3 separate regions of the Homo sapiens genome follow, and regions 1 and 3 are each linked to region 2. The links come from fine-mapping of genetic effects on gene expression. A gene starts in region 2. Each other region holds a variant in brackets. All regions are shown on one strand. Distances are from middle to middle. Region 1 has its middle 16 kb from the start of GPR15. Region 2 holds the start of CLDND1 (claudin domain containing 1). Region 3 has its middle 29 kb from the start of CPOX.

Region 1 (8,187 bases), 25 kb after region 2:
GAGCCTGATTTCTCTCTATAAAATAGGAACAATTATACTTGCTTTAGAAAACAGTAGTACCTCTAATTAATTAAGATGAAAATGTAAGGAATTCAGAAAATTACCTGGTACATACTAAGAGTTTAATAAATGATAGTTGAGGAAACATTCCCATTTTATAGATGAAGAAAATAGCCCTCAGAGGAATCGTTTCACATAATTATTAATGTAATGAACCAGAAATGAAACCCCAATTTCAGTTAAGCTCAGACCTACGTAATCGCAAAGCTCATGGCCTTTCCACTTCACTGTATTCTTTCCTGATTCCCAGATTTTCTCTTTCTCTCTCTCCCCACTACCTTTGCCTAATTGCAATAATTTTCACTCAAATTATTTTTCTTATTTTTTCCAAAGCAAATATCTCAAATAAACAAATCCTTTGCCTATTCACAATTAATACTAAAAAAAGATGTTTCTTGAGGGAAGAGGAAGTCCATTTTATTAAAAATATAACTTTTTCTAAAAACTGTAACATGTTTTCTTTTCTGTTATATAATCTCTTAATTGTGATCTATCACAAATGGCATTTTCTATCCTACTGATGGCCACTTGAAGCCTGTAATTGATTCAAAAGTATGTTGCACATAGGAAATGGACAGTTATCTATTTTGCTCAATGTAACACCCAAGTCCACACTAAAGCACAAATGCTATGACACCTATGACAGTGTCCTTCACCAGAAAATGTTTTTTAGAAAGAGTAGATATGGCTTGAACCTGGGAGGCGAAGGCTGCAGTTAGCCAAGATTGTGTCACTGCACTCCAGCCTGGGCAGCAGAGCAACAGCCCGTCTCAAAAAAATTAAAACCAAAAAAATGGTAGATATGTACTAAATTCTATTATCTCATTTTCTCTATCCCTTAAAATTTTTCTGGTCACAGATTTCTTATATATCTATGGCGACAAAGAAAGAAAAGTAAATGTAATCCCAAATCTCACGCTCTAGATTTTGTGCCTGTGACATATGGAACCTAAACTGACATTAGGAATTTAAACTTTTACCATCTTCTTTATTAAATGTTACTTGTTAAGACAATGAGTTGCCTTGGGCCACGTGCAGAAGAAATTTGGTAGACAATGCCCTTGTCTTTCGGGAACTTCATTTACACTTTTGGAAGGCACATTTGTGTTAATAATTTCCTCGTTTTAATAGCAACTCCCAATTGTAGTTTTAAGAGATAAGGGTTTCTCTATGTAGTATATTATAAACTGCCCCAAACATAGAAACTTGATTTAAAGTTTCTTTAAGTAAGAAACAACATTTTCTGTGTATCACTTTTAAGAGAAGTTAAGGATGTTATGAGGTAAAATAATGAGTTAATAATCATTGACCCACAACCAAAGAGAAAAATTAAACATAATTTTGAATAAAAGAACATGATACCAGAGTATTAATCCTAACATTTATTTTTAACATTAAGGAGTAATTATCCCAGCTTACTTTATTTAGGAAATATATTAAAATGTTAACAATGGCTGTTCTAGGTAGTAGAACCAAGGGCAAATTTATTTTTATCCTTAATTTGTTTTTCTTCATATTTTTCTGAATATTTTACATGTTCTATAATGAGTATGTACTTTTTTAAAATGTTAAAATAAAGGATGCTGAAATAAATGTCATGCATCACATAAAACAAATATTATTTTATTATATATTTATCTATTATATAAAATATAAATATAATATTTATTTTGTATATTTATTATATTACAATAATATGTACAAGTTTTGCCTTTTCCTTCAAAGTCAAAATAAGAATTTTTAAATGTCATGTCCAATTTTAAGTTTAACATCCATGACTTTGATATAATTTAAGTTCTGAAAAAATGATGTAAATTAAAGCTCAATCAAATAATATTTGTTCTCATATCAAACAGCAAATCATTGTTTTGATTCAAAGCTTCAATTTTACTTTTACTAAATTGACTTGTCTGTTAAATCAAAGGTCAATTTAATTTGTTTATGTAGACACAACTTCTATTTTATTTTAAAATATTTCAACTTTTAAATTAAGTGTAAATTAGAATTGGTTGGACAGAATAATACTTTGAGTTTTACTGTTTTTTCCAAATGTTCTATTCTAAAATATTTGCAAAGAGCATGATATTTTATAAAACTACAAAGATTTTTAAAGTAAAATATTTCTAGAATAAAATTTGTATTTAAGCAGACATAAGAAGAAAATGTTGACTCTGAGTGCTTTCGCTTTCCCTCGGGTTTACCTAGAAAGTTTTCTAGCTTCAAGGATGTCTGAAGATTGCTCACTAAGCAGTCAAGGAAGGAGAACCACTAGTCTGACATCAATTTTCCATTATAACGGTACAGCTTTGTTACAAGAAAAATGCACAGGGCAGATGACTTGCACCGAGTATCTACAATTCTCATTGCAATGATTTCTAAAAATTGAAATTAAAAACAAAACCTATGTTTATGGAGTATTTATTTAGCACCCGGGAACTGTTAAATCATTCACATATATTATCTCAATTGAATTCACAAAACAACTTGTGAAAAACAATCTGGGTACCCAGTTCTCCTCCCTTTCCTTTTTTCTCCCCATGCAAATCAGACCTCAGTCTGAGGGTTCTCCCATGTCTTCTAGCTCCCTTCCCCAATTCTTGCCTAATCCCATTTTGGGGTCTTCTGTGCAAACCTGAGCTAACATATATAGAACAATTTTTTTTTCTGAGAGAATATAAATTTTCTGAAGGTTCAAACATCTTTTTGAGAAATGCTTTCAAGTATGGCAAAGACATAGCATACTATACAACGGAATGATAAGTGTTTTCTACATTTTCATGCTACTAAAGTCATATATTAAGCAAAGTAGAGAATTGTAAAAATGTGCCCCTAATGTGTCTCTTGGTTAACTGGCTTTATAAAATAATCCTCAATGACTTCTTAGGCTGTATAGGTAGTAATTTTTAATACTATAAATATGACTAATATCATTACTATTACTAGTGTTTATTTTTTAAATAAACACTAGTTTAAAGTTATTGAGTTTTCCACTATTTCCAAACTTTTTTTCCTATTTCCCTGGAAAATTACAATGAGGAATGCCTTAAAAATAATGAGCTGGGGCCGGCCACGGTGGCTCACACCTGTAATCCCAGCACTTTGGGAGGCTGAGGCAGGCGGATCACCTGAGGTCAGGAGTTTGAGACCAGCCTGGCCAACATGGCGAAACCCCGTCTCTAATAAAAAAAAAAAAAAATACAAAAATGAGCCAGGTGTGGTGGCTGGCACCTGTAATCACAGCTACTAGGGAGGCTGAGGCAGGAGAATCGCTTGAAACCGGGAGGCAGAGGTTGCAGTGAGCCAAGATCACACCATTGCATTGCAGCCTGGGCGACAAGAGTGAAACTCCATCTCGATAATAATAATGATAACGATAATAATAATAATAATGAGCTGGGTACAGTGGCGTGTCTGTAGTCCCAGTTACTAGGGAGGCTGAAAGCAGGAGGATTGCATGAGCTAGGAGTTCAAGATCAGCCTGGGCAACATAGCTAGTTCCCCTTACTAAGAAAAAAAAAGGAGGGTAAAGTAAAAAAATATACAATATGATAGTGTGATAGAGTGGAAAACATAAAGGCTTTAAAATTAGAAAAACTGAGTTTGAAACCATAACAGCCTACCACTAGCAAAGTCTGTGAGACCTTCGACAAGTTATTAACATTTTTCTCCTTCAGTTTTCTTATCTGTAAAATGAAAATAACATTATTTAACTTGGGGTTATTGAAAACTCAGTAAGTGAGGCGACTTATGTCGGTCTTACAAGTAATGTTTGTTTTTATTTTATATTCTTTTTTGGCCCTGTATGCACTGAGACAGATCTATAAATATTCAAAAATGAATTTTGATTTAAAGATAATTTAATTTAATTGCGGAGACAATGTTTATCAAGCTGTTGTTGGAGGAATGTATATAAACTCTATATAACATACATTAGGCATGATATATACTTACCCACATATGCAGACCTATTAGAACCACAGCACTCATCTGTGACTAATAAATTTATTTTAGCCTCTGGGCAACAAACTTTATAAATTATATTTCAGAACTATTTTTGTAAAAAGCATTATGAACGCATTTTATCTATATCCAGTGCTATAAGAGAAAACACATTTAGAAAGATAAGATCATTCATCCCTATACCTGTGGCTCTTTTCCCTTAGAAGTTTCTCTTAGTAAAGTTTTTCATCTGAGTTGATTAATGTAGATGTGTATATACATACAACTATATCAAAAATTATATATAAAGAGAAGGAGGGGGACTTAGGGATCTACTTAGCCACCGGTTTTGCTCTGAAGATAGGAGAAAATGCTAGCTTTAGACAAGAAGTTCTCTCTTCAAAGGTCAAGAGCTTTTCTTAATTTTGATAGCTCTGGCAACTTGTTCAGAAAAATCCACAAGTCTAGATCTGCAAATGCTTGAAATGCTCCATCGGACAGACCAAAAATTCAGAATACTACAAACACTCACGTCTCTGCAGAAAAAGATAATCTATATTACTCTTTCCTCTTGCCTATAATTTTAGTGCCTGCAACCCTGCCCTCTGGGACGATCAACTGATTTGGGCGAGATGGGTAAAGGAGGACAAAGAAAGGGGAGGGAGGGAGGAAACAGCATCATCATTGTCGCTGATTTCCCATTTATTTTAGTAAAAAAATTTGTCCTCTGAGGTTTTTGTATCTAAGATGACAAGCCAGGTAAAAACCTAAGAGATTGGGTAGACTTCTCAGGAAGTGTTATAGTAGCAGGTGAAACCCTGGAGAAAAACCCATACCTGTGAGGGCATTTGAACCTGTCGGGGTGGGGAAGTGGGAATGACCTGTGTCTACTACTCCCTTCCTCTCTCTCCATCCTTGGGTAACCTGGCCAACGGCAGCTGCCGGAAATGAATGACTTCAGCCACTGAACCATCCTTAGGCGAATGAATGGCTTCCA[T/C]CTTAACTCTAATTTTCCTTTAGCCAATTCTGTTTTTGTGCCTCCTGAGTTCTCGTTAAGGTCAAAACAACATTAGTGGTTTTTAAGGTGTTAAGTTGGTTGTCTTTTTCTCACATTTTACAAGCAAAACACAGAAAATGAGAAACAACAAGAAATCCCTCATGGTCTTAAAAACAATCTATTTGAAAATTTCAGCATGCAGATCCAGTTAAATTTAAATTCAGTTAAATTTAACGTGCCAAATTTCAAATGGAAATTTGGTTCTCTGCATTTTAAAATGTGTAACAACTGCTTACGATATTCTATTTGAAACATATCACAATGTACATGATAGAATTAAAGGGTCATTTATATAAATTGTTATAGACTACAACACAAACATTGTTTTCAGAGGAATTCTTAAAATCATCTAATCCAATCCACTCATTTTTAAAATGAGAAAACTAAGAGAAATGGAGAGTCTATTCAGAAGCAAAATCACATTGTGGTTTTAAAAAAAAATTCAGCTGGCACACATGGGTACAAGTATAAAGGTTGTTAAAATATATTGATATATTTCTGCTTCAGTTGGTAAATTGCCACTGCCCTGTGTCCTCTGAGTGCCCCACTCTATCATGGTCTTCTGTCACCTTCCCTAGTAGCTTTTGGACACTTCAATATAGCAACTAAGGAGTTAACACCTTGCAAACAAGAGACCCTTGGGAGCCAGGCTTCTCCACTGAAAGCCAGGTCCTTTCAGATTGGTTGATTGCATAAACATGCAGACAGATAAATAGTTTTTGGTATCTCCCCTGCATGCAGTCAATGGCAGAAATTTAAATAATCAACGGTGGTGGAAACTTGACAGTTGACCCAGCATCCATTCTCATGCTTTCATTTTTCTCAAAATAATTCAGGACTCTTATGCCTAGGCAGTCATCTATCTGGTCTTTCTCATGCAGCTCTTGTGTTTTTGTAAAAGTTGAACCCACTCTTAGCCTCCTGGCAAAGCCTTGATAGACTTCACTATAAGGTGGGCATGTGACCAACCAACCAGGCTGTTTGGAATGCCAAGACAGCATTGCTCTCTCTTTCTCTGTGCCCTATTGAAGCCACCCTATGAAACAAGAGAGCCAGACTTAGAATAAAGTTTACATGGTTGACTGTAAAAAGAAAAGACAAAGTCAAAACTAAGCAAAATGAAACAAAACAAAACATAAAAATGGAGTCCTTGTTGGCATGACTGAGCTTCTAGATTAACCAGCCTACACCTGAGCCTTCCAAGTAACTGAACCTGTACACTTCTTTTGTTATTTAAGCCTGTTTGAGTTGAATTTTCTTTTACCTGAAATCCTAAAGGACTTACCTTATAAACTAGTTCCCCACCAAAGCTTTGCCAAGATTCTCTAATACAATCCTTTAGTTATATGATAAGGTAAAATTTCCCTAAATATGTTCTGAAAAGTACTAATTCCAAGAGAAATTAATAATTATGGTCCTGAAGAGGAACAGCTCAATAAACAGAGTTAGACAGACAGACCTGGATTATTTAACAAAGATTTGTGGTATACGCAAAACATAATTTTTATTTATTATTCCCATTCTAACCTTTTAAAATTTATTCATTAGGGCACTCTTCTTCTGCCCTTGCCTGAAGAATTTGGCAGGTCCATTGACTTTTCTTCTTACTCTTTGGGAAGAGCTTTGAAGCATAAAACACAGTGTCAATTTCGTTCTTTCCTTCCTCTCACTATTCACCTACTCACCAGCTGCTCAAAGAAAGGTGGAGTGGGGGTAAGGTTACCAGATTTAGTCAATAGAAATACAAGATGCCTAGTTAAATTTGAATTTAAATGAATAGTAAATGATTTTTTAGTATAAGTATGTCCCAAAGATTATTTGTCCATCTGAAATTCAAATCTAACTGAGCCTTATATTCTTTCTGATAACCTTAGGTGAGGCAGAGAGGAAAGGTAGGGGGATTTGGTTTGTTGAGCAACTTCCTGTTCTTTGGGCATGGCAGATAGCGAAGGTTATGCAGTTGAGCCAATTTTATGGGTTCTTTGAACATCCCATCATAGGAGACATCTCCAACATCAACTCTCAAGACTTAAGTGATACTCCTCATTCCCCAGGATGCCCACCCCTCTTTAGCCTCTGGTCCACCAGCAGAGGGACTATACACCAGTTACTACCCCCCATCACCAACCCTTGGTTCACAGGCAACAATGAAGCATCTTTGCCCCCATGCAAAGTGGATTCCTGGCCTGATCATCTTTGCCCCCATGCAACATTGCCAAAGCATCTTTGTCCCCACGCAACAGCGAATTCCTGGCCTGACCATCAAAGTCCTAATGAACCAACTTTTGTATTTAGACTTTTCAGGAGAGAATCAACTTGTCTAGAGTGCTCTGGCATACTGCAAACACACTTAAGCTCTTTAAGAGTAGTCCCACGGAAGCCCCTCCCAGCTTGCTGGGCTTGGTGTAGGAGACAGTAACTTTCCCAAGTGGAAAAAGCTGAGGCCCCATAGCACAGCTACTAGTCACTTTTAAGGAAAGCTCACAAAAACCCTCTCTTTATTCTCTGACGGGATCCAAGAGTTTGGAATCCATTCCCAGATATTATGCTTGTACCATCTGCATATAGTGACTTAGCAACAACTTACTTGAGATTTTTGCATTTATTTTATCTTTATGCCTTGTTGAAATTTCAATTTTAACATTCTGTTATATAGCTTTCTTTTCTGGGAAAATTCTCACAACTTTTAATATAGCATGACTAAAGCAAACCTGAAGGAGAGCTGAACTGCCTTCCTAGACTGGCTGTCTCATGCATGACCTCTACTCCTATTTGCCGAAAATATCCTCCCTATAACAAAATAATGGCAGGAATTTTAGGGGACTGGATTATTGTAAGATTCCTGGTGAAACCACAGTCCTCAAACCATACCTTGAAAAAATTCCTGCAGGAGTTAAAAACATTTCCCTTTATTGTATTCTTCTAATCTCCCATCTCATTCTACAAAACTCCTCCACAGAGGCCTTTGCTCCTCAGGCTTCTTATCTAAGTAGTGCCACGTGTCAAGTCCAAGGTCCCTGAATAGAAAGATTAGACTGGGTAAAACAGGAGTATGGCTTTCATGGGATCTGGGACCTATAATAACCTCTAACTATGAAGTTTAGGTGAGAGGCTTCCTCATCCGGCTACAA
Region 2 (8,187 bases):
TAGCTATGTAGAAAGCCTAGGAAGAAGGGGAGGGAACAAAGACTGAAATAAATAGGAATGTTGATCTTCTCATGCAACCGTGCTTTATCAACCATATTCCCATCTCAGGGAATGCCAAATCCACACTTCCAGTTCCTCAGACCAGAAACTTTAGAGTAATTCTTGTACATTTACACTCCATCAGGAAATCCCAGGAATTCTTCCTTCAAACTATGTCCAGAATCCAGCTGCTGCTCAGTGCTACCATTCTGGTGTGAGTCATAATCATCACTTAACCTGAATTACTTCTATAACCTCCTAACCATAGTCTTCTAGTTTCCACCTTTGTCTGCTGCCTCTGTTCTCACAACAGCCAGGGTGACCAGATCAGGGCTCAGCACTGTATCTGGAGTCAACACCAAAGTTCTCATTCTGCCTAGAGTCCTCCAGGATTTGCCCCAGTCCCACTCCCAAAGTAGGTCTTTAACAGCATACCCAACTTCCCGTCTCTCCCTCCATTCCAGCCCAGTGGCTTCCTTACTGGTCCTTGAATATTTCAGGCATGCTCCCGCCATAGAGCCTTTGCAGTAGATGTCCTTTCCAACCTAAATGACTTCCTCCCCATTTACCCATATGGCCAACTCTTTTGTCTAGTCTTTAACTACATTCTTTACTCAAGTGGTGTCTTCTCAATGAGACCTACTTTAAGTATCCTATTGAAAATCATAACCTATGGCCACCAATATTCCTTTTCCCACATATTTCCAAATCCCTTTTGTGTTCTATTTTGCCATAGCACATGTCATCTTTTAACATACTGAATAATTATTTATTCTGTTTATACTGTTATATTCTGTTCACTGCCTGTCATCCTTTATTAGAATGCTAGCTCCCCAGGAGTAAGGATTTTGTTCTTTCCTGATGTTCTCCCAGCTAAGAGGCCCTGGAACATGGAGACATGCAATAAATTATTTGTTTAATGAATGACTAAATGGTAACACTCCAATTCCAACTCCAATTTCAATATCAAGTGCTCCTGTAACCTCATAAGTCAAACTGAACATTTTACAATGAATTTTAACCAACTTTCTCTCCTTTCCTTCCAAATTATCTTTTTTTCCAGATACAGTGACATATTATCATCCTTTTGATATATCATAACTCAAGCCTGTTCTGCTATGATTTGAATACAATGCTTCCCCACTAAGGGGCCAACAGAAGTAGTCATAAATAAACTGTAAAGTTGTTCCTTACAAAGAGTTCTAAAGCTACCATTTTAATAACTGGAAATCAAAATCTTTAAGTGTTAAATAAGAATGCCTGTAAAATAAACCTAAAAATCTAGTTTTTGGTTTTTTTTTTTTAACTTCTGTAATACAAATTTCTTAACCTACCAACTCTGCATCAAGATTGTTGTAAAACAGTCTCATAATTACACAGATTAAATGTAGAGCTGGTCAAATTATATCCTCTAAGACACAGGGGCAAATGATAGATATGTATTATAATACAGCTAACCCATAAAAGGACAATTTTTTGAGTTGATTTTCGATGGTAGTCCTTTTACTAGTTACCAAATATTTTTAAAAGTCTTTCGATGTACTTTTCCAACTATTTCTTTATAACATGTGTTAGAGTAATGAAAAGTATTTTAATGAGTGAGTAAATAAGAAAAAAAAAAGCCATTAAGGCTTTCCCAAGATAAGAAAAGTTCCTCATCCAACCAATATTGATGAGTACCATGGTAATGCAAAGAAGTTGGGGAGAGAAGGCAGTAGAAAGAGAAGATACACGATTTATTTCTTTAAGGAGAGAGAGAACCAACAAACCTGCTTACATGTAATTGGGCAATCATTACGTCGTTTTGTCTATTATTAACCAGGTGAAGAAGACAGAAGTTAAAATAAGAGAAATACCTGTCCTTTCTGGTGGGCTATACCAATGCATGTTTTTGGGTATGGTGATACACCGTCTCCACAATCCCACTGTGCCATTGTATCGAAAAAGTGCATCATTATAAGTCTTTTCATCTGCCTCATCACTAATGAATTCATCCCAGATGCTTTTATTCAAATCACTGGAATTTTCTTGAACTGGACTTCGATATTCATACCAGAAGTCTGTGCCAATGGAGGCTGCCATGTAGATGGTGGAAATGAGGCTAAGCACACAAGCAATTACAAATGCTGTAGCAAAACGGTTATCCATTCTGGCATTCAGACTGCTCTGTTTAGAAGTTGAAGAAAGAAGATAAGTTAGAGTTTACGGACAAATAAGAAAGATTATTTTGAATTATTCCAAATGCACCCTTTACCCAATTCCCCATCCCTTCGTACATATAACCATTAAGAATTTTTTTTAGAAAGCAAGCATGTTTTTAATTAAGCTTAAAACAAAACTCATTCTCATAAAAGTACTTATTGAATGCTCACATACCCAGGATGCTACGGAGACAGAGGTCTTGTTCTCTAGTCTATCACCTGCATACTAAAACAGACAACACTGAAATGGACATACACATTACAGATACAAACAATAGACATGCCCATGGTCAGCAGTGTACCGTGCACACATTTTAAATTACAGACTGAATTTTTGCACGAGCTGCAGAGGATTAAGTGTTCTGGGTTTGAGTGTTAAAAAGGCACAGGAAAAAGAAGCAGTGGAAATTGGCTTCTCCCAGTTTCCTCTGAAGAGGGAAGCCTCCTAAAACAAAGGTAAGAGTCAGGAGCCATACAGAAAACAGAGTTGAAGATGTTTGTTAACCCCGAGGGAAAGGTTGTTCTAGGTGTATAAAATAGCAAAGAGAACAATAACATGTAATAATGCTAGATAGCAATCTCTCCCTAATCCATTAAAGCTAAGCCAAGCTTCTTTACGCTGCCAAATGCTTCACTCCTATCTACTCTCCCGATTCCTTATACTTCTGAACCTCCTCAACAGAAATCTTGCTCTCTCCCTAAATCCTCAGTGCAACATACGTCCGCAAAAACTAAATGATCCCTCCTCAGCCAGACAGAAAACTCTCAACATATCAACACTCCCAAGGCGTGGACAGGGCTCAACGGCAGTAGTAAATGGCCGCGGTAAAATGACTCAAGGCAGATCGCGCTGAGTCAAATACTACACGGCAAGTATACACCGTGACCGCACCAAACACCTTACAAAGGTTCATGAAAACAGACTCGCAAACTGGGGTTGCTGAGTTTGGAAAATGGGAAGTGACTCAGGAAAGATAAGAGCAATGACAACGAAAACTCAAAAAGTTGGATTTGTATTTTGATTTTTTAAAAATCCCCCCTTCATCCTGGTGCTCTCAAATGACCTTAAAGGGTCCCAGCACTGGGAACGGCGGTTCGTCCAAGCCGGACGCCTGCAGCAGCCACCTCCTGGGCCTCACGGCGGGGCCGGAGAAGGCCAGGGCTGGGGCGGGGCAGCCGTGCTCGGCCCCGGGCCAGGGTCCCCCGGTACCCGACCAGGCCCCGCCCTAGAGGGCTCGGCCCTGGGACAAATCCGCCGCTCGGAACCCGCCCAGCCCGACCACGCCCGGGAAGGGGGCCCCTCTTCAAACCGCCGGGAACATGGAACCGCGACGCGACCCCTGCCCGGCGACGCAGGTCCCGCTCACTCACCGCCCATCCTCCTGCTCCGCCAGCTTCACCCTCTAGCTCAGACCACAGCACCCTACTCTCCCCGCGCCTCCTCTGACGCACTTCCCTGCAGAGCCCGCCCCCTCCATAACTCCCGCGCCTCCGCCCGCCCCCACTCCGGGCCGGGCCGCGGCCCGGGGCCGAGGGGCCTTGTGGGAGTTGTAGGAGGGACAGACTGAAAGCTGTCTGAGGCGGCGATAGGCATTCCTGGCGCCGCGCGCGGCGCATTGTGGGAGATGTAGTTCAGCTCCTCAGGGCAAGCCGGTACGCAGAAGGGAAGTCTAGGCTGTTGGATTCTTGCATTTTAGGGAGGAAGGGAGAATGGTCCAGAAAGTAAAGCGGGCCTGTTTCCGGTCATCTCGAGTCAATGACCGTGACTTGTATAACTTAGATCTGACTTTTAGGCCTGTGCTTTCCCTATCACACCACCCTGCCTCTAGATCTAAGTATAAATGAACAAAAATGGGATTCTACTTGTGAAACGTTGACCCATTTTATTTCCCTCTCCCAGAATCCCTCCCATTGGAGCAGAGCATCCTTCTGGTTTTATTGCATAAGTTTAGGCTAAGAAGTATGTGACCTGGCAGACAGTATCCATCAAGAATGTAATGATATTATTTGGGTTTCATAAAATGTGTTTGTAGCTGCCTTCTTTTTATGACAAGTGATACTAGTTTTCTATTGCAGCAATGTTGTTCCTTTTAAATTCTTTTCACTTATTTTAAAAACTATTAAGTTAATAATACTGAGGATACCAGATATGTCAAAAAATGAATAAAAAATTGTGGGTATAGTAGGAAAAAGACTGAAATTTGGGGAACATCACTCAAGCAGATAAGGTCATGGACAGCATTGGAGATTGCAGATGATGTGTGGCACAGGGGCAACAATGATTCTGAACCCTCAGGTTTAACACAGAAATTCATGGACAGGAAGCAGGGACATCTTAACAATAACATGAGTGGAACTATTAACGTGGCCTGGGACCAGCAAATGGTGGATTTCTCAACAGTAACCGACAGAGAAAGCTGACTCAAGGACCAGAGGGGCTCTCAAACCCCCACTCTGTCCCCTAATGCCTTGTAATTTAGCATAGGAGAAAGATGGGAGCTGCAAGTTGATATTAAATTTCTACCACTTTGACAGATTAAAGGCATGATATGTTTCTCTATCTGTACTTACATTTCTTTGACCTGAGTGGGTGAAACTGATATTCATATGCAGCACATAATAAGGTAGTAGCCAAATATATTCAAACATGACTCTGGATTTTCATATACAGCATATAATCAAAAAAAAATTTGTCAGAGGCACCAACTAGAGAAAGTGATGGAGAGGCACAGGCAAATTGTCAATGTGTAGTAAGACACATAAATGCCCTTATACTCCAGGAAATGTCTTCATCCATTGGCCTTCATTAGAAATCCCCTATTTTCCGCCGGGCATGGTGGCTCACGCCTGTAATCCCAGCACTTTGGGAGGCCGAGGCGGCAGATCACGAGGTCGGGAGATCGAGACCATCCTGGCTAACACGGTGAAACCCCGTCTCTACTAAAAATACAAAAAAATTAGCCAGGCGTGTTGGTAGGCGCTTGTGGTCCCAGCTACTTGGGAGGCTGAGGCAGGAGAATGGCATGAACCCGGGAGGCGGAGCTTGCAGTGAGCCAAGATCACGCCACTGCACTCCAGCCTGGGCGACAGAACAAGACTCTGCCTCAAAAAAAGAAATTCCCCACTTTCAGATTTACCTCTCCACTGAGATCATGTGGTCAGTAAACCAGGCAAAAGAGAAGTTTAAAGGAGAGAGAAGAAACAACTTCAGTCTACAGATAAAGGAACTAGAGAGAGTAACTGACTTGGTAGCAAACTTGGATATTAGAGTAACTGACTACCATGGTAACACACTTGAATATACTCATTTTGTGACTTTGGAGAATTAACCTTCTTTAAGTCTCGGTTGTCTTTTCTCCAAAATATGGATGTTGACAGTAGCATCTATCCCACATGATCATTGTGAAGATTGAGAAAAACATATAAAACGCCCAGCACAGGACCTGAGGTTTAGGAAAGAATCATTAAGTTATTAGTATTTGCAAATATTTGTTGAATATAATATTTGAGTAAGCTTAGTGAGAACAGTCTTTTTTTTTTTTTTTTTTTGTATTCTAATACAGTTCAAATCAGTGTGGCTGGTTCATTTCAACTCCTTCACTACCAAACTAGGAGGCAGGGACTGGCTTCAGTTTTTCTGCCTTCTCTTTTTCACTGATGACCAGGGTATAAAGATATCTGCTGCATCGAACTTTAAACTTCACATTGTCCTTATTTTTCTTGATCTTGACAGATTCAGCATCCTTTCATTGGGCTGTGAACAGAAAGTCCTTGATTTCCTCAATTTTCGGAGGCATGGCGACAAGGCACGCAGGGAGCAGGCGCGGACCGGGACAGCGTGCGGCGACCGGGAAAAACAGGACAGAAAAAGACAGACAGCTTTTAAAGCTCCTGGATTAACCCTAGAGGCTACCCCTAAATGGAGATAAGCCATTTATACAGAGAGGTGTTCCTGCTCGCTTCAGCAGGTTTGAGAAGCTCTGGACTAACCACCAAATGACTAGGAAAAATTTGCCAGGGCTAGTATTTTGGGCATCCCTGTTTAACCCTTCTCAGGAGATTCCCAGGCCTGGGATCGTATCATACACAAGTCGCCATGACTCAGGAGGTGGATGTTTCTGGGAAGACCTGCAAAGGAGGATGACACTTGCACCCTTCAAGTCTTCAGAATGCCTAGAAAACACTCAGGACGCATTTCACTGACCAACCTAGTGTGAACCTGGAGGTGTCTCTACGTGTTTGTGGTTTTGATCATCCTGAGAGAGGACCTGAACGGCCTCTTCACACCCAGTTTCACCAACCACACAACCGTATTTCTGGTTTATCTCTGCATCTTTGGTGTTTCCTAATTTCTATTTATGCTTGCTTGTTGTATGAGTAGGTAAAATAAATCCTTAATTAATTAATGGAGCTAAATTTCTACTTCTGCTTCTTACTCTGCTGTTTGAGAAACGGTAGCTAGCCTTATATTTTCACAAATATGAAAGATGATTTTGTGCAACCATGTAGAGATTATGGAATTTAGGTTTAAAAGCGAAGTTAAATGAGACATCTAGCTTAACTTGTTAAAGATGGTTCTAGTTTCAACCGGAAGGCATTATAGTTATAGCACATTTAAAATAAAACCGATAACTGAAAATCTAGATACTCAGATGTTGTAACTTGTTTTTATTATGTACTTATGAAACAACCCTTCACACTAGAATTTCCATCAATACTAAATTCCCCAATACATTTAATATTTTATTTTTAATTGCACATTTTTAGGAACTAAAAGTTATATCTACATTATAAGATATATTTACATTATGTTTCTTCATGTAATTTTTTTTCTGGTTGTTTCCCTTGTGAACTTTGGAGTTCAGAAAGGAAAAAAATGGGAATATGTACAATTCTGGGTTCCAACCAAAAACCATTTTTAAAAATGTACCTATCTTTGAATTTCCTTGCACCCATTCACTGTAGAACAATAACAGAATCAAGATCAAGGCAAATAGAAAAGTGCACCTAAAATGTCTCCTTTTTTTTTTTAGTAATTCCTGTAAAGTGCCACATATAGTAAAAAACTATAATTTTTAGATGCCCATGCTTCTGAAAGACAGTGAATGACCCATATGTAAATGAGAAGTTTAAGTTTAAATTATCCTTTATTTAAAAATTATCAATGGATCTTTGGTTAATGACCCCTTTCTGGACCCTAGGGTCCTCTTTAGTAAAACAGTTGTACTAATGATCATTAACACCACTTGAAGCTCTAAAATTTTACAGTTTATAATTCTACTGGAAGAAGAATAATGCAACTACAAAATACGGTTTTTCATAGATCCACAGCATTAGAGTTTCATTGCAGAATTTATATACCCTATACCTCAAGCCTAGGCAATGTACTAGAAGCAGAGATAGTGGCAAATGTAGATTGCAAAGGAAAAGGAGGAAGACTATATGCATTCTGATTAGAAAAGGTACCGAAAAACAGCCCTTGCTATTTCAAAGATTAACAGTAATTATGAAGGTAAAATTATGGAAGGAAACTTTTCTGATTTCTTCTAATTGACACTTATTAGTATAGAGTTATGAGTATGAATTGTGGGCCTCCCAAAAATAACTTTTCAAAAAAAAATCTTATTGCAGATAAGAAACTAATATAATCAATTAATTTAATTATTAATAAACTTAAGAGTCTTCATTGAGAGAGTCCTCTTCTCATCACTATCCGTCATACTTATTATGAGGCCATGATAATGATATTTTTCACATTTATTGGTTTGCAAGTTGCTTCTGATTCAACAAGATGTGCCAAGTGAAAACATAAGCATAAGTTGACAAAAAATGTGCTGCATTAACTTAGAAACATCTCTTCATATTAGTTTATGATGTGACAAAGATCCCAGGACTGAATAGAAAATGGAAGCTGTCTAAGAAGTTTGTGAAAAGTCCCTACTCTGCG
Region 3 (8,187 bases), 41 kb after region 2:
AAAATTGATGAAAAAATAAAAGATACATTTTACTACAAAAAGTAAACATTTTCTGCCCTAAAAAGATGTATAAACTATGTTACAATAAAAATTTCAAAATGGGGAAAAACATGCATACTTATAAAAAAGGGCTAATTTTCTTATTATACAAAAAGCTCTAATAGCAAAAAGATCAATTCAATATAAAGCGAGTTAAGATATAAATTGGCAGTTAACAGAAATATAAATATAAATTGTCAATGAATATTTTATAAATGCTCAACCTCCTGCATAACTAAGTCCAAGTTGGAAAAAAAAAAACTTTTTTAAAAGTTATAAAATGGCAAAATTATAGTGTGAGCTTCAATGTTGAGGGTAGGTATGGAGAAGCCCACTCATTCACTGTGGGACACTGTTAAATTAAATTGCATATTATTAAGTGAAATTTAAAATTCACACTCTTTTCAACTATTTTCAATTCTATTCCTAAGAATTTGTTTTACAGACTTTTTATATTCTCACAAAAATAAGTAGACGTGGATGATCATTGTGACATTGTTTGTCTATTAGTTATCTACTCCTGTGCTTAAAAATTACCCCAAAACTTTAAAGTTTAAAGTCATAATAGACATCATTATCTCATAGAGTTTCTGTGTCTCAGTTATTGGAGAGCAATTTAGTTGAGTGGCTGTTTCATGGGGTTGTAGTCAATGTGTTGACAGAGACTGCAGTCATCTCAAAGTCTGACTGGGGCTGGAAGATCCAATTCCAATTTGACCTGTGGGCTGACAAGTTGCAAGAGGGCCAAGCTCCTCACCCCTTGCCTCCCAATATAACTGTTGGAGGATCTTCATGATAAGTTAACTGGCATCTCCCAGAATGAGTAATTCAAGAAAGTACAAGGCAGAAGCCACTATGCTTTTTATAACCTAGTCGTGGAAGTCATATGTTGCCATTCGCACAATGTCTTCTTGTTACACAGGACAGACTAATTCAATGAGGGAAGGGAATACACAAGGAGATAATGCTCATTGGGGGCCATCTTTTGAGACTGCCTGCCACAGTTTGGAAGGATGAAAAAAACAAAGAAAGGAAAAGTATCTTAATATCCATTGATAAAGTACTGGGTAAATAAATTTTTAAACTTAATTAAATGTTATAGAGCATTTAATATATTAATTAAATGTTATAGAGCTTTTAATATATATTTAATATGTAATATAAAATTATAAGGTGTTTATTAAAAAGAAGGAAGCAGCCTAAATGTGTTGCTATGGAAAAATGCCCAAAATACACTAAAGTATATAAAGCACATATTTATATATTTATTATAAGACTCCTTCAATATTTTTATAAAAATAGACATTTATGCATAGTTATATGCATAAGAGTGAGAAATTTCCTCAAAGATGTATAAGGATCTATCAGTGGGTGGTGAAACCTGGGGGTGAGATAGTGGTAGGGATATGTAACTTTTTATTTTATGCCGTATACTTATACTAGTAATGTTTGAAAAAAAACTTACAATGAAAATGTATTACATTTATAATATTTAAAACTAGCAAAATTATGCTCCACAGAGCTCTACAGGACACATAGCCAAAGGGGAATATCATTTGAGCCAAGCTCAGACAGACTTCTCCCTGACTATCTCCTGCTCAGAGGAGCTGAGTATGTAGGCAGGAGAAACATACGTTGGTTTTCTGAATAGAGAACTGAGAGCTACCCAATCTCTAGTCTTCAGCCTTTGCAAAGCTGGATTAACAAGATGGTAATTATCCCAAAAGTAGAATTCTATTGTGGCATATTTCTCCCTATTCTGAAGCCATAGGGTCCATCAGAGAATCAGGAAGCTGAGAATCTGCAGGGATGGCAGGGTATGCAGTCGGCAGCAGTTACACAGGATCACACCACAGTGGAAAACCTCTCAGCACCTTGGTGTTAGCAAAACTCAGCTCCAGTGGATTTCCAAAGCATCCACTACTATTACAGCAAGGCCAGGGCATCTGAACACCTGTCTTAGAAGATTTTCAGGAACTGTAGCGGCTGGGAGTTGAGTGAGCACTCTTGGTGGATTACCTTGAAGTGATGGAGACCCAGGTCAGCCTGTGCTCAGTTGATTACAAGGCCAAGTTGGGGGTTTGAACCCTCAAAAGAAATCCTCCACTGAGTTGAGGAAAAGGATAGCTGAGAATTGTCTGCAGCGAGAAACCACAAGACCTCTGAGTCACAGAGCTTTAAAGGAAGCCTTCTAATAGCTGGTATCAAAATGCAAATAATATAAGAATTATACAGATGCAGTTAACATTTATTGAAGACTTATTTTTCATCTACTAATTATACTCATTTTGTAGATGAAAAAGATGAGAATTGGAGAAGTTAGGCAATCTTCCCAAGGATATTACACATCCTTTAAATTTTTCAGTTTTAACAAATGATTCAAAAATGTCTTTTTAAAAAAATGAAATTTTGATCAAACATTTTAAGAACTTCTGAAACATTTCTGCACAAGACAATTTAAAAACCACTGCTTTGCTATTTAACCACTGGAACCAGTAGGTGGAATTTACGGAAAGGTAGATTTCTGTTCAATATAAAATATAAGTTTATTCATAACTAAATTATCCAATTATAAAATGAAATTTTCTGAGGGGTAGTTAAGTTCTCCATCACTGGAAATGTTCAAGCAGAATCACTATTATTACCTCTTAGGTATATTAGAAGTGTGAGCAGCATACAATTGGATTTCCTTCCAAAACTAAGATCTGATGTTCTCTGAAAAGAGGCTTCACTTTTCTTTCTTTCTTTCCTTCTTTTTCTTTCTTTCTTTCCCTCCTTCTTTTCTTTCTTTCTTTTTTTTTTTCTTGAGGTGGAGTCTCGCTCTGTCGCCCAGGCTGGAGTGCAGTGGCACAATCTTTGCTCACTGCAACTTCTGCCTCCCAGGTTCAAGTGATTCTCTTGCCTCAGCCTCCTGAGTAGCTGGGACAGGCATGTGCCACCAAGCGCAGCTAATTTTTGTATTTTTAGCAGAGATGGGGTTTCACCATGTTGGCCAGCCTGGTCTCAAACTCCTGACCTCAGATGATCCATCTGCCTCGGCCTCCCAAAGTGCTGGGATTACAGGTGTGAGCCACCGTGCCTGGCATTCACTTTGTTATCTCTCAGGTTAAATTGAGTCAAAACTTCTGATTACAGAAGGCTGAACTAAGTATATTTCCTGAAATTTTGGAGTTTTAATAGTAATAGTAAACATGTATAAAGCACTTACTATGTGCTTGGCACTGTTTTAATTGCTTTACATTTGTTAACATAGGTCATCTTTTCTACTGTCCTATTGAGGTATGTATTATTTATACAGAATTACATTGAATTCTAACCTCAAAATCTAGCTACCAAGTCCATGTTCTTCAGCAGTTTGTGATATTTATGCTACATATAGTGATACAGTTGCAAGTATATGACCCTACAAGTGGATAAGAGTTTAGCTAAAACACTGCAAATAAATGAATAAACAGATGCAGGAAGTGGTTTGTTGCATAATAGGGAGTTTCTATCCATGTTTCTATAGTTGTGTCACCAAACCACAGGTTGGTACTTTGAAAAAAATCAGTGCTATAAAAGCTTTCGTATCATTAACATTCCTTAATTCTGAACTCAGTAAAAGCTTAATCAAAGATGGTATTAGGAGAATACAAGTTCTCTAGCATTTTTTATTTGTTTGTTTCCATAACTATAGGATTTGTTTTCAAAGAGTAACAACCATAAGACATTTACAGTTCCTTTCTTGAATGCAAATAATGGTTAGGGGCTGGAGGCACCTAAACTGTGAGACAAGGTATTGATTCCTATTGAGCTTTCATAATTCTGGGTGAGAGTGATGTCAGAGGCCAGACTATTTTTTTTTTTTTTTTTTTTTTTTTTTTGTGGCAGGGTCCCTCTCTGTCGCCCGGGCTGGAGTGCAGTTGTGTGATCTCAGCTCACTGCAACCTCCACCTCCCAGGCTCAAGTGATTCTCGTGCCTCAGCCTCCCAAGTAGCTGGGATTACAGGCACATGCCACCACACCTGGCTAACTTTTGTATTTTTAGCAGAGACTAAACAGGGTTTCACCATGTTGGCCAGGCTGGTCTCAAACTCCTGGTCGCAAGTGATCTGCCTGCCTTGGCCTCCCAAAGTGTTGGGATTGCAGGTGTGAGCCACGGCACCCAGCCCAGACTACCTTTTGCTCAGCACTTGGCTCTGTGGGGGTGAGCAAAAACTTCAACCCTCCACACCTCAATTTTCTCAGGCATGCAATGAGAATAACTTCCTCGGGGTTATTTCAGATATTGACTAAGTTAACTTAAGTAATGTTAGAACACTGTCTGGCACCCTCAGTGTTGGGTATTAGCACTAGCTGGTGTGAAGAGAGATGGAGCATATAAATGTAAATTTAAGTTTACAAAGAGATAAATAATTTGACTGTTATGTGAGAGTCAGGTGAGAGTTACAGATACCAAATATACCTGGGTTTAAAGAGAGGTGTGACTGTTATGGGTGGCAGTGTTGTGGCCCACAGG[G/A]GCAGACTCTCAGGGTGAGGATACTTGAGCAGGGCCAGGAAATGAATTATTTTGTTCACCTTTGATGTGGCCCACATTCAAATGCTTCACAAGTACAACGTTCTCAGCTAAGCTAAGGTGGTCTTCGATACGCACTTGACCACAACGGAAAAAAAAAAAAAAAAACAAAGAATGAAAAAGTTAAACAACAGGTGGGAAGTCAATGCTGAATAAAAAATTAAGATACGCAAAAGTTAACATGTTATTTCCTTCCTAAATAAAACACATGTGCATACAAAAATACATGTATAATATTCTGATATATTTATAAATACCTATCCTTGAATTGTTTTTCACTTTTCCAGCCAAATTCCCTCATCAAATTACTGAATTTTCCTAGCTTAAAAATTATTATTTTTGATTTTGACTAGAGAAAGTGAAAGGCAATTTACTGCCACATCTATCTATATTACATAAACATACATGCTCATATATACTTTCCACTGGGAAGGGAAGAATCATGATATGAAAATGACTAAACTCTTTCTCTCTGACTGATCTAGTCTCCTCTTCTTCCTACCTTTAAAGTGCTGAACAGTCATTTGCCCAGCTTTCTATGTATCAAATATCTGATTGTTTGTTTTAATGTCTTCAGTGCGGCTTTAACTGATTTCCTGAATACCTAATGTCCACATAACACTTAAAAGCTTGTAAAACTCTTTCCCATATGTTATTTTATTGACTTCCCACAGTAATTTTTGGAGGTACACATTACTCATTCTCTTTTACAGAGGAGTTAAGAGTAGAGTCTGTGTGACGTCCCCTAAATCACACAGCTATGACCGGTCTGAAATATGGGCTCAGGTTGTATGGGAATACTACCAAAGATTTCAGAAATGATCATTATGCATTCACGGGTCCTCTGGTGCCTGGTTATAAAGTAAAAGGGTGAACAATTCAGATTTATATTTGAATCTCTGTCTATAAAGTTTTTTTGTGTTACAGCCACTTGTCTTACTTTTATTTCATTTTTGTTTTTTTTTTTTTTCTTCTATCTGAAAGAAAGCTAGAGAGTTATTTCCCCTCACAAGCTTCAAAAACCTGCCAGGCAGAGACTGATTCCCACAACCCCTCTCTGTGGTCTGGGCTTCAGGGAACAAGAAGTAGAGTGGCGGACCACATTCTTCCTCTAGTAGCAGAGACACACTGGACCACTGGGTCCTGGGAAACTTTTCCCAGGGACTGTCTTTATTGCTCCACTCTCACGACAATAACACACACTCAAACAAGCACTCACGTAACCCTGTATACAGCTGCATCAGCACCCAGAAAACGTGGCCTAATGTAGCAAAGGTAATTCCTACCGTAAAGTCCTTTAGCAGAAATGGTTCACGATGGGCCTGTAACAATGTAAGGAGTTTTTACAAAGAGCCAGGGGTAGGGCACAGGGAGAGGGTGGGGAAGGGCCATTAGGGGAGATGTAAGCGGGACACTCAAGATGGACCAGGAACTTATTTGAAAGCGGTAGTTAACAACCAGAAGGGAGAAGAATTTCACCCAACCCAGGAAATAGGAACCCGTGGCCTAACGACCCCTTGGGAATCCTGTGTCTTTAGCGGAAGGCGTGAGAAAAAAGGAGTAAAGTGAAGTATAACTGAAGCTTCAGGAATTAGAGAAAATGGAAAGGGTGCATGTAGGAAGGAAAAGAAAGACAAGGTGGAGGTTAAAGGCAAGTTGCAGGTTTTAGTGGCATGGTGATTAATTTTATGTCAACATGGTGGGGCCATAGTGCCCAGATATGTGGTCAAACGTTATTCTGGATGTTTCTGTAAGAGTGTTTTGGGTGAGACTAACATTTAAATAAGTGGACTTTGAGGAAAGCAGTTTGCCCTTTATAAAGTGGGTGGGCCTCATCCAGTCAGTGGATGTTCTAAATAGAACAAAAGACTGACCTTCCTGAGCAAGAGAGAATTCTGGCAGCAGGCATGAACTGCAGATTTGGGACTTGCCAGTCTCTATATTCACCAATTCCTTAAATAAAGCTATATACAGACATACACACATGCATCCTATTGGTTCTGTTTCTCTGGAAAACCCTAACTATCACAAGCAGGCTGTGGTCATCAAGCTACATAGGGAGGGATATGAAGCTGGTGAACAAAAAACAGGGATATAGCAGGAAGCCAAACTGCGGCTCTATTAGGCAGGCATTTGAACACTGACCTTGCTCTTGGCCTCATCTTAATTTCCCACCATTAGTTTCCCTTTGTCAACTTTTCTTATTTTCAATTGAATTCATCTCACTATATTTTATGCATTATTATATATGTCACCTTAAGTCCTTTCTGGGACAAATTAGAAGTATAAATAAATAGATTATTATCATCTGGAGCAATTATGTAAGACTAGATTTAGATTCTCTACAAATAAAGAAGAGACATGAATTACACAAATCTAAGAAAAAATGATGAAGAGATATAGATGATAAATGACATAAAATTTAAAAGATGTGCAGTAGAAATCCAAGGGTGTATGCAAGGGAAAGTAGTTTAGTCATAGGATAGAAAGTATTGAGATTAATCAAGAGGCTAAAACATCAAACCACAGAGATATAAGCAAGCAGCAAAAACTCTTCATTTAAAAAAAAAAGGTTTACAAATCAGAGAAAATGGATTTTGTGTTAGTATGCCCACCTAAATTTTTTGAACATTATATAATTAAAATATTTTCTGATGGGAGAAAATTAAAAGGTTCAAGAATGAAGATGTACGAGGTCATGAAAACATAATGCTGTGTTCTCTTTGTACGTATATACAAAGACTATAGAGTAAGACTTCTTACTCTAAAAAAATTCTGAACTAATAAAAATTCAGGTGTACTTTTGCCCTATGTCAATAAGATGAGTTGATGGGATTTCTGACTTTACCTAAGATTATAGCAAAGCACTAATAAGTTGAAGAACAATCAGCAGTTAACTTAGACTTTCACACCACAAAAGCAGAGTAAGAATGAGAGGACTCCACCCCAGCTACCCACACAAGAACCGGGCCAGGGTAAAATCAAACTCTGTTGTGGCCTGAGACACAGGGTTTGATTTTTACCCTGGCCAAGTTCTTGTGTGGGTATCTGGGGTGGAGCTACCCACACAATAGGAACAACATTGAGAGGAAGCCCAAAGATTTTTCAGGGAGAAGCATTCTTCAACTTGTTACCCATTTTTCCTAAACAGAAAGTGTCTTCAGTCTCATGCTTTTGCTTATCCCTGTGGTATTTACACCAATCAGACCATGAAGAGATGATGCTGTGGTGGCAGCACAAAAAAACTGTGTTGGAGTTTTGAAGCATTGATAGCATTTCCTTCAAGTTGTCACTAAAATATAATTTGAAGAAAATAAGGTAGACCTGTAAAAACCAGAATATGCTTTTCTTTTAGTGTCTTTCTATACAAACAGAAATATACCCAAGTTCCTCTGGAACTCACGAGATATCTTCATGATTGAGCCAGAGGGCTGCTGTGTTTAGAAAACATAACCCTAGACACAGTGATCATTGATTTAAATGTAACTTCTAAACTCTCAAGCAAAAACTTGAAAAAGGTCACACATCTGGACCATTGTCCAGCACCCACTTTATAAAATACCTTCCCCTGTACCTTGAGGTGTACAAAATCT

Evidence for each region.
Region 1: its variant is fine-mapped to the expression of CLDND1 in whole blood (INTERVAL, PIP above 0.99).
Region 3: its variant is fine-mapped to the expression of CLDND1 in whole blood (TOPMed, PIP above 0.99).

The regions. Positions count from the first base shown.
Region 1 is chr3:98,543,835-98,552,021 of GRCh38, forward strand. No RefSeq gene overlaps it. Among named protein-coding and RNA genes, the nearest start is that of GPR15, 16 kb to the left of the region's middle. RefSeq lists a silencer at 2,340-2,389. The variant T/C (reference allele first, on the strand shown) is at 4,997.
Region 2 is chr3:98,519,238-98,527,424 of GRCh38, forward strand. It overlaps CLDND1 (claudin domain containing 1), which reads right to left and starts at 3,665. Exons shown (of 5, transcript NM_001040181.2): 1 at 3,612-3,665; 2 at 1,896-2,205. The coding sequence starts at 2,187. CLDND1-AS1 (CLDND1 antisense RNA 1) reads left to right here and starts at 3,333. Exons shown (of 2, transcript NR_198998.1): 1 at 3,333-3,596; 2 at 5,974-6,650. It also overlaps the pseudogene RPL38P4. RefSeq lists silencers at 3,112-3,221, 3,272-3,911 and an enhancer at 5,114-5,243.
Region 3 is chr3:98,560,266-98,568,452 of GRCh38, forward strand. No RefSeq gene overlaps it. Among named protein-coding and RNA genes, the nearest start is that of CPOX, 29 kb to the right of the region's middle. RefSeq lists an enhancer at 2,007-2,056 and a silencer at 3,111-3,170. The variant G/A (reference allele first, on the strand shown) is at 4,538.